Linked DNA regions of Homo sapiens: region 2 is linked to region 1. The links come from fine-mapping of genetic effects on gene expression. Tissue or cell type: whole blood. Region 1 holds a variant in brackets; the other region holds the start of a gene. All regions are shown on one strand. Distances are between the middles of the regions.

Region 1 (5,221 bases):
TAGGAATGCTTGTGATTTTTGCACATTGATTTTGTATCCTGAGACTTTGCTGAAGTTGCTTATCAGCTTAAGGAGATTTTGGGCTGAGATGATGGGGTTTTCTAGATATACAATCATGTCATCTGCCAACAGGGACAATTGGACTTTCTGTTTTCCTAATTGAATACCCTTTATTTCTTTCTCTTGCCTAATTGCTCTGGCCAGAACTTCCAACAGTATGTTGAATAGGAGTGGGGAGAGAGGGCATCTTTGTCTTGTGCTGGTTTTCAAAGGAAATGCTTCCAACTTTTGCCCATTCAGTATGATATTGGCTGTGGGTTTGTCATAAATAGCTCTTTATTATTCTGAGATACATTCCATCAATACCTAGTTTATTGAGAGTTTTTAGCATGAAGGGCTGTTGAATTTTATCAACGGCGTTTTCTGCATCTATTGAGATAATCATGTGGTTTTTGTCATTAGTTCTGTTTATGTGATGGATTACATTTATTGATTTGTATATGTTGAACCAGCCTTGTATCCCAGGGATGAAGCAGACCTGATTATGGTGAATAAGCTTTTTGATATGCTGCTGGATTCAGTTTGCCAGTATTTTATTGAGGATTTTTGCATCAATGTTCATCAGGAATATTGGCCTGAAATTTTCTTTTTTGGTTTTGCCTCTGCCAGGTTTTGGTATCAGGGTGATGTTGGCCTCATAAAATGAGTTAGGGAGGAGTCCCTCTTTTTCTATTGTTGGGAATAGTTTCAGAAGGAATGGTATAAGCTCCTCTTTGTACCTCTGGTAGAATTCAGCTGTGAATCCATCTGGTCCTGGGCTTTTTTTGGTTGGTAGGCCATTACTGCCACAACTTGTTATTGGTCTCTTCAGGGATTTGACTTCTTCCTGGTTTAGTCTTGGAGGGTATATGTGTCTAGGAATTTATCCATTTCTTCTAGATTTTCTAGTGTATTTGTGTAGAGGTGTTTATAGTATTCTGTGATGGTAGTTTGTATTTCTGTGGGATCACTGGTGACATCCCCTTTATTATTTTTATTGTATCTATTTGAGTCATCTCTCTCTTCTTCTTTATTAAACTGGCTTGTGGTCTATATATTTGTTAATCTTTTCAAAAAACCAGCTCCTGGATTCACTGATTTTTTTGAAGGGTTTTCTGTGTCTCTATCTCCTTCAGTTCTGCTCTGATCTTAGTTATTTCTTGTCTTTTGCTAGCTTTTGAATTTGTTTGCTCTTGCTTCTCTGGTTCTTTTAATTGTGATATTATGATGTTGATTTTAGATCTTTCCCTCTTTCTCCTGTGGGCATTTAGTGCTATAAATTTCCATCTACACACTGCTTTAAATGTGTCCCAGAGATTCTGGTACGTTGTGTCTTTGTTCTCATTGGTTTCAAAGAACTTATTTATTTCTGCCTTCATTTCATATTTACCCTGTAGTCATTCAGGAGCAGGTTGTTCAGTTTCCATGTAGTTGTGCAGTTTTGAGTGAGTTTCTTAATCCTCAGTTCTAATTTGATTGCACTGTGTTCTGACAGACTGTTATGATTTCCGTTCTTTTGCATTTGCTGAGGAGTGTTTTATTTCCTATTATGTGGTCAATTTTAGAATAAGTATGATGTGGTGCTGAGAAGAATGTATATTCTATTCATCTGGGGTGGAGAGTTCTGTAGATGTCTACTAGGTCAGCTTTGTCCAGAGCTGAGTTCAAGTCCTGAATATTCTTGTTAATTTTCTGTTTTGTTGATCTATTATTGACAGTGGGGTGTTAAAGTCTCCCACTATTATTGTGTGGGAGTCTAAGTCTCTTTGTAGGTCTGTAAGAACTTGCTTTATGAATCTGGGTATTCCTGTATTGGGTGCATATGTATTTAGCATAGTTAGCTCTTCTTGTTGCATTGATCCCTTTACTATTATATAATGCCCTTCTTTCTCTTTTTTGATCTTTGTTGGTTTAAAATCTGTTTTATCAGAGACTGGGATTGCAAC[C/T]CCTGCTTTTTTTTTTTCTTTCCATTTGCTTGGTAAATCTTCCTCCATCCCTGTATTTTGAGCCTATGTGTGTCTTTACATGTGAGATGGGTCTCCTGAATACAGCACACCAATGGGTCTTGACTCTTTATCCAATTTGCCAGTCTGTGTCTTTTAATTGGGGCATTTAGCCCATTCACACTTAAGGTTAATATTGTTATGTGTGAATTTGATCCTGTCATTATGATGCTAGCTGGTTATTTTGCCTGTTAGTTGATGCAGTTTCTTCATAGTGTCGATGGTCTTTACAATTTGGTATGTTTTTGCAGTGGCTGGTACCAGTTTTCCTTTCCATATTTAGTGCTTCCTTCAGGAGCTCTTGTAAGGCAGGCCTGGTGGTGACAAAATCTCTCAGCATTTGCTTGTCTGTAAAGGATTTTATTTCTTCTTTGCTTATAAATCTTAGTTTGGCTGTATATGAAATTCTGGGTTGAAAATTCTTGTCTTTAAGAATGTTGAATATTGGCCCCCACTCTCTTCTGGCTTGTAGGGTTTCTACAGAGAGATCTGCTGTTAGTCTGATGGGCTTCCCTTTGTGAGTAACTCAACCTTTCTCTCTGGCTGCACCTAACATTTTTCCTCCATTTCAACCTTGGTGAATCTGATGATTATGTGTCTTGGGGTTGTTCTTCTCGAGGAGTATCTTTGTGGTGTTCTCTGTATTTCCTGAATTTGAATGTTGGCCTGTATTGCTAGGTTGGGGACGTTCTCCTGGATAACATCCTGACGAGAGTTTTCCAACTTGGTTCCATTCTCCCCGTCACTTTCGGGTACACCAATCAAACATAGGTTTGGTCTTTTCACATAGTCCCATATTTCTTGGAAGCTTTGTTCATTCCTTTTCATTCTTTTTTTCTCTAATCTTGTCTTCATGCTTTATTTCATTAAATTCATCTTCAATCTCTGATATCCTTTCTTCTGCTTGATTGATTCAGCTATTGATAGTTGTGTATGCTTCACAAAGTTCTCGTGCTGTGTTTTTTGGCTACATCAGGTCATTCAGGTCCTTCTCTAAACTGGTTATTCTAGTTGTCACTCCTCTAACCTTTTTTCAAGGTTTGTAGCTTCCTTGCATTGGGTTAGAACATGCTCCTTTAGCTCAGAGGAGTTTCTTATTACCCACCTTCTGAAGCCTACTTCTGTCAATTTGTCAAACTCATTCTCCGTCCAGTTTTGTTCCGTTGCTGGCAAGGAGTTGTGATCCTTTGGAGGAGAAGAGGATCACATTTTTTTTCTGCCTTTTTGCACTGGCGTTTCCTCATCTTCATGGATTTATCTGCCCTTGGTCTTTCATGTTGGTGACCTTCAGATGAGTTATCTGTGTGGATGTCCTTTTCGTTGATATTGATGATATTCCTGTTTGTTAGTTTTCCTTCTAACAGGCCCCTCAGCTGCAGGTCTGCTGGAGTTTGCTGGATGTCCACTCCAGACCCTGTTTGCCTGGGTATCACCAGTGGAGGCTGCAGAACAGCAAAGATTGCTGCCTGTTCCTTCCTTTGGAAGCTTCCTCCCAGAGGGGCACCTGCCAGATGCCAGCTGGAGCTCTCCTGTATGAGGTGTCTGTTGACCCTGGTAGGAGGTGTCTCCCCACCAGGAGGCACAGGTATCAGGGACCCACTTAAGGAGGCAGTCTGTCCGTTAGCAGAGCTCAAGCACTGTGCTGGGAGATCTGTTGCTCTCTTCAGAGCCAGCAGGCAGCAACATTTAAGTCTGCTGAAGCTGTGCCCACAGCTGCCCTTTTCCCCAGGTGCCCTCTCCCAGGGAAATGGGAGTTTTATCTGTAAGCCCCTGAGTGGGGCTGCTGGCTTTTTTTCAGAGATGCCCTGCCTAGAGTGAGGAATCTAGAGAGGCAGTCTAGCTATAGTGGCTTTGCCAAGCTGCAGTAGGGTCTACCCAGTTTGAACTTCCTGGTGGCTTTGTTTACACTGTGAGGGGAATAGGGCCTACTCAAGCCTCAGTAATTGTGGATGCCCCTCCCCCAACCAAGCTTGAGCATCCCAGGTCAACTTCAGATTGTTGTGCTGGCAGCGAGAATTTCAAGCTAGTGGATTTTAGCTTGCTGGGCTCTGTAGGGGTGGGATTTGCTGTGCTAGACCACTTGGCTCCCTGGCTTCAGCCCCCTTTCCAGGAGAGTGAATGGTTCTGTCTTGCTGGCATTCCAGGTGTCACTGAGGTATGAAAAAAAAAACTGCAGCTAGCTCAGTGTCTGCCCAAATGGCCACCCAGATTTGTGCTTGAAACCCAGATCCCTGGTGGCATAGGCACCGGAGGGAATCTCCTGGTCTGCTGGTTGCGAAGACTTGGGGGGAAAAGCATAGTATCTGGGCCAGGGTGCACTGTTCCTCATGGCACAGTCCCTCATGGCTTCCCTTGGCTAGGGGAGGGAGTTCCCAGACCCCTTGTGCTTCCCAGGTGAGGTGACACCCTACCCTGCTTCAGCTCGCTGTCTGTGGGCTGCACCCACTGTCTATCCAGTCCCAGTGAGGTGAACCGGGTACCTCTGTTGGAAATGCAGAAATCACCCGCCTTCTGTGTTGATCTCTCTGTGAGCTGCAGACCGGAGCTGTTCCTTTTTTGGCCATCTTGCCCTGGTTCCTAGTCAAGCATTTTTTAAGAGAGGATTTTCATATAGTAAAAAAAAAAAAAAAAAAATTAAGTAAATACTTTGGTTTAAAATTTTAGATTGAGTCTGTTAGGAGCTAGGGAAAATTATGATAAATAAGAGTTAAATCCCTTGCCTCAAAAGGGGGAGACTTAAAATATTACCATTTTCCACTTGCTTCTGTAGTTTTAAAAAGCTATATGAATGGTTACAGATAATGATACCATTTAAATGAGGTTTTATATGTTTTGTTGTTCTTGAGAGGAGAAAAGAAACTAGTAATTTAAGCTAACCAGAAAATATAGGAAAGGGAAATATAAACAAGATAACACAAGGAAAACTAGTTATATCAGCTATGGCCATGTAATTAGGTCAAACATCTTTTAAATAGGTGTGAATGAGTCAGAAAGCAGAATCCAGGTTTTGGTCATCTGCCAGAGACCCATGTAAAGTCTAATAACATAAAAAATAAAAATGGGGGCCAGACTTGGCAGCTCATGCCTGTAATTCCAGCACTTTGGGAACCTGAGGTGGGAGGATTGCTTGAGCCCCGAAAATTGAGCCTATGGTGAGCTATGATCATGCTACTGTACTT
Region 2 (5,221 bases), 63 kb before region 1:
ACAACCTAAGAACAAAAGATGCTCATGATTATTGGTTTGCCAATTTCTTTTAGGCCATTATCAACAGGTAGAGCTAAGACAAAATTATATACATTTTTAAAGATAAAATACAATATGAGTTCATACTGATTCTTCCTGTTCACAATTTGACTATAGGATTTTTACTTAAACACATACAATTTATATACATGTCTCCCCATACCAAAAAAGATCAGTTTTTACAACACTCACGTAAACAGTTATTTTCAGTGTCAGATTAACAATACCATGATCAACACCACTATCCTCAATATGATTATTTAAAACAGTTTAAGATTTTTTTTTTTTTTTTTTGAGACGGAGCCTCTCTCTGTCACCCAGGCTGGAGTGCAGTGGCGCGATCTCGGCTCACTGCAAGCTCCGCCTCCCAGGTTCATGCCATTCTCCTGCCTCAGCCTCCCGAGTAGCTAGGACTACAGGCGCCTGCCACCACACCTGGCTAATTTTTGTATTTTTAGTAGAGACGGGGTTTCACTGTGTTAGCTAGGAAGGTCTCGATCTCCTGACCTTGTGATCCACCCGCCTTGGCCTCCCAAAGTGCTGGGATTACAGGCGTGAGCCACCACGCCTGGCCAAGATTTTTTTTAAGTTGTTTTTTTTTTGTTTGTTTTTGCGGGTTGTCTCTCAGTGGATTTACAATAATTCAATGGTTTAAAGTTATAGTTGATCCTTGAAAAAAACAGGTTGAACTTCGAGGGTCCATCATACGTGGATTTTCTTCTGCCTCTGGCACCCCAAGACAGCAAGACCAACCCCTCTCTTTGCCTCCTTATGATTTTCTTAATAACAGTTTATTTTCTCTGGCTTACTTTATTGTAATAATATAGCATATAATACATATACAAAATGTGTGTTAATTGACTGTATGTTATCAGTAAAACTTCTGGTCAAGAGTAGGCTATTAAGTTTTTGGAGAGTCCAAAGTTATATGTGGATGTTTGATTGTGCCAAGTGGAGGGGATTGGCACTACTAACCCTAGCGTTGTTACAAGGGCTATTGTATTTAGAATGATGTGTACCTTTGAGATTATGCCACCAAGTGGACCAATTAAGAGCTACTGGTTTTTACTTGATTTTTATGGACTGCTTTTTGTAAATTTAATTTTGTTTTGTAATGATATTGTTAAAATTAAAACTTTAGAAAAATTAAATTTAGCAGAAATTAATTGAGCAATGACCAATTTGAGAATCAGGCAGCCCTCAGAACCAGAGGAGGTTCAGAAAGTATCGTTCCACAAAGAGGCCAGGCAGCACGCATAGAAAAAAAACAGAAATGAGATACAGAAACAGCTTGATTGGCTACAGGTTGGCCTTTGCCTTATTTGAACATGGGCTGATCAGTTGACCACCTGTGATGATTGGCTGAGACTCAGTTATTTGTTACAGAAGTATATTCCTAAGTTAGGCTGTGAGTTAAATTGCATACTAAGTTGGGTTGCAGTTCATTATATAAGGACTCAAAATACGGAGACATCTTTAAGCTAAATTTAATTTCACAATATGAAATATTTACTTGGTTCTAAAGTCAAATTTATGAAGTAAGATGTTTCCAGAGATGTCTAGATTCTATCCCTGTCTCCTCTATCCTATTTATTTCCTCCACCATAGGTAGCATCTTTAAAAACCTCAATTGTTTTCATTCCCATTATTTTGAAAATTTAAGAAAATATGTATATATATTGAAATTACCACCATCTTTCTCTTTTTGGGTAAAAGCATACTGTACAAATTCCTATCCATTTTTTTTCCACTTTGTAATGTATTCTGGAGATCACACCACAGATGTATATAGAGTTCTTCCTTATTACTTTTGACGATTGTATTAGCATTTCATTGCTTTGTTGTGTGAAAGTTTTTGGGAAGCCACTGTTTTGGACTAGCTTCACGCACTAGGCCCCAGCAGACCAGACCAAACCAGAATGGAGTCGTTTGTGCTAAGTACCACACAATCAAACTGAACTTTGAAATGGGCCAGTTTCCCAAAAAATAGGAAATTCCCTTAAGTCTGAGTCAGTGAAACAAGGAAGTTTCTTCTGCTTTAACCCTAAAAGTAACTTTGAAACGATGAGTCCACTTTTTGTTCGGTTTCTGCTTTCTTCAGCCCCTATTTGCCAATAAAACCAACCGCCTCTGCTCAGCTGATCAGAACACTCATTCTACTTTATAGAATGAGGTGTTTTTTGATTCTAGAATCACGAATAAGAGTCAATTAAGATTTTTAAACTAATTCGTTGTAATGCTGTCTTTTGACTGTTGTACTACAATTTATTCAAGCAGTCCTTTATTTAGGAATTTGGGGGTAATTTCCAATATTTTGGTATTATGAATCGTGCTGAATAGTCGTGCATGCTCTTTCATATTTTCACCACACGTATTTTTGGGTGAAAGCATGAATTCATCTATGCAATTTTGCTAGATATTAAGCTACTCTTTTCACTATTCCTGTACAGATGGAGGGACAGATGAGACAGCTGCCCAGGGCACTTCAGCAGTTACTGGCATAGCTGGGATTTGAACTGGGATGTAACTATTTTCATACACTCTCTAGGTCATTCCAAGGTGGGAGAGGCAAGCAAATAATTTTGAATCTGGCCAGCATATTCACTGAAACATTTATGCTTATCCTTCCTCCTCCCAGCATACAAGTTCTTCCTTAGCAAAACCTCCAGTCCTCTAATTTAGCATACTTTCGTCTAATCTGTCACTTTCCTCAGGCCCCACAACTACGAGTACTCCTTGTCCCCACCCGGTCCTAATTTGGTCGGGTATAGCGGAGGTGGGCGTAGAGAGAACTGGAGGTGGAGACCTTTGTGCATGCCCACACACTGCTTTCCTCGCGAGGAATCTGGGGCCCTTGCAGAGGCGGAACCAGGATGTGACGTAATAACCGCGCGCGGCGCTCGGCGTTCCCGCAAGGTCGCTTTGCAGAGCGGGAGCGCGCTTAAGTAACTAGTCCGTAGTTCGAGGGTGCGCCGTGTCCTTTTGCGTTGGTACCAGCGGCGACATGACGGGGTACACTCCGGATGAGAAACTGCGGCTGCAGCAGCTGCGAGAGCTGAGAAGGCGATGGCTGAAGGACCAGGAGCTGAGCCCTCGGGAGCCGGTGCTGCCCCCACAGAAGATGGGGCCTATGGAGAAATTCTGGAATAAATTTTTGGAGAATAAATCCCCTTGGAGGAAAATGGTGAGTGACAGACCTCTCCGGTCCCCCCCAACACATCCCACTGCTGCCGGCAGCCTGAACACTGAACGTCCGCTCCCTGCAGCCACACCAAGGACTGATAACGCTCAGTGCTCTGGGACACTGGCCAGTCCCGAGAGTCCTCCTGGAGTCTCGGGAGGCAGGAGTCCAGGAATATGTATGGCTTTGAGAGAATCATGCCTTTTACTGTCAAGTACAGTGGACGGGGGCGAATTTTAATACTTAGGTTTTCCAGGACGCTGCACGTTTGGTTCTCTTTTGACTGTAGAAATCTTCCCTCAGAATAATAACCAAGGACTCGCTAGAATTAAAATTCTGTGATTTAAGTATTTGAGGACACTTGTCTGACTTTTAAGTGTGAGGTTCTAGAGACCAAGTAACACAGTATCCAACCACCAGAGGGCACAGCCAGCCCCTAGCTGATAGTACAGCCCCATGTGATCCCCGTAAAAGACAGGGTCCTGTTGGTATGCCTTGTGAGTCACATTCAAGAGCTACCTTTCTAAACTACCGTTCTGTACTTTTAACACAGTGTTTCATTAAAAAAATCGCATTTTGGGCTTTGAAGAAAATCACTCATTCAAGAACTTTATTTTCAAGGCCTCTGGGTATTTTCTTGAGGACTGTTATGGATGATAAACATCTCAGAATTGCTTTCAGTTACCTGCAACACTTACTGATGACAGGATAATAGTAGTAACAATACTACGTAACACACGGGTGCTTGCTGTGTGCTTGGCACTCTACTGGGGGTTTTACATGTGTTACTTCATTTCTTTATTCCTGTAAGGTAGATATTCCTAATCCTCATTTTAAATGTGAAGAAACTGAGGCCTACAAAGCTTCAGTGATTTGCTGGTGGTCAGGGAGCTAGGAATTGAATATGAGTTCATATTGTAATCAACATGTATCTGATTCTTACTGTGCTACAAAGTCTAGTGCAATAGAATTGTTGAAAATTTTTCTGAGAAAGTGATATTGGATACTTATTTATGGTGGTAAAATTCAACTCTTCTCCCACCCTTTGTATCCCTGACATTATCGGAATATTGGCAGTCACTGATTTAAAGTTGACATCCCATCCATCAGCAAGTGATATAAGGAAGTAAATAAATAATAATGTGTCGAAGTTCACCTTACCTTACTTTAATTTATTCTTTTATAATCATATCTGTTATAATTCTTAGATTCTGGATTGTCCCTTCCTTGAATGGATAGGTGTTTTTTAATCAAGTTGGAAGACATGGGAAAGTTCCATTTTTAGTTCTTTTTTAAAATAGTGTTGCAGAGGGCATTTTGGAGTGAGTTTGGGACACCCCATCTTAGTATGTAAAACGTCCTTTTTCCAGCATTGGCGTTGTCAAGGTTGTCTGCCTTATACCTAAAATGATGTGAGTGTCATTGATCAATAAATAAGGGAGATGACTATACCTGAAAAATTCTGTAGGTTTGATTACTCTGGTTAAATACATTAAAATTATTCTTTCATTATTTTGCTATATTTTATCTTTAACAAACTTATAATAAGGATATTTTTGGAAGTCTTTAAAAAATCTATAAATGCCTTGTTATAGTCTTGCAAAATACTGCTTAAGCATTTTGGTCTGGACTTTGTAGGTATCTTCTAGCAGACTCTGCATTTACTAAGAATATTTGAGTAGATGAGGTTACCTACAGACTATAAGAAAATATGTGCCATTTAGAGTTTTGTAAAATAGTCATGGCATTGTTACATCATTGATGCCTTTTGTTCTGCCATAAATATAAAAAATGGGATATGTTTATTTTGTGTATGTGTTTTTCCCCCCAGGTCCATGGGGTATACAAAAAGAGTATCTTTGTTTTCACTCATGTACTTGTACCTGTCTGGATTATTCATTATTACATGAAGTATCATGTTTCTGTAAGTATGTCCTTTTCAGAATTCATTTTTAATATTGTCCAAAATTACTTTCTTTGTGGCTATCTTACCCTACTTAG

What was found. PIP is the estimated chance that this variant, and not a neighbour inherited with it, causes the effect. A credible set is the group of variants that fine-mapping cannot tell apart.
Region 2: it holds the start of NDUFB6, and the variant in region 1 is the best candidate, but not a certain one, in a credible set for the expression of NDUFB6 in whole blood (INTERVAL, PIP 0.83).

The regions. Positions count from the first base shown.
Region 1 is chr9:32,507,695-32,512,915 of GRCh38, reverse strand. All of the region lies in intron 1 of RIGI (RNA sensor RIG-I), which reads left to right. Among named protein-coding and RNA genes, the nearest start is that of RIGI, 16 kb to the left of the region's middle. RefSeq lists enhancers at 3,401-4,117, 4,118-4,836. The variant C/T (reference allele first, on the strand shown) is at 1,986.
Region 2 is chr9:32,570,883-32,576,103 of GRCh38, reverse strand. It overlaps NDUFB6 (NADH:ubiquinone oxidoreductase subunit B6), which reads left to right and starts at 2,945. Exons shown (of 4, transcript NM_002493.5): 1 at 2,945-3,223; 2 at 5,052-5,144. The coding sequence starts at 3,044. RefSeq lists enhancers at 2,538-2,587, 2,858-3,397.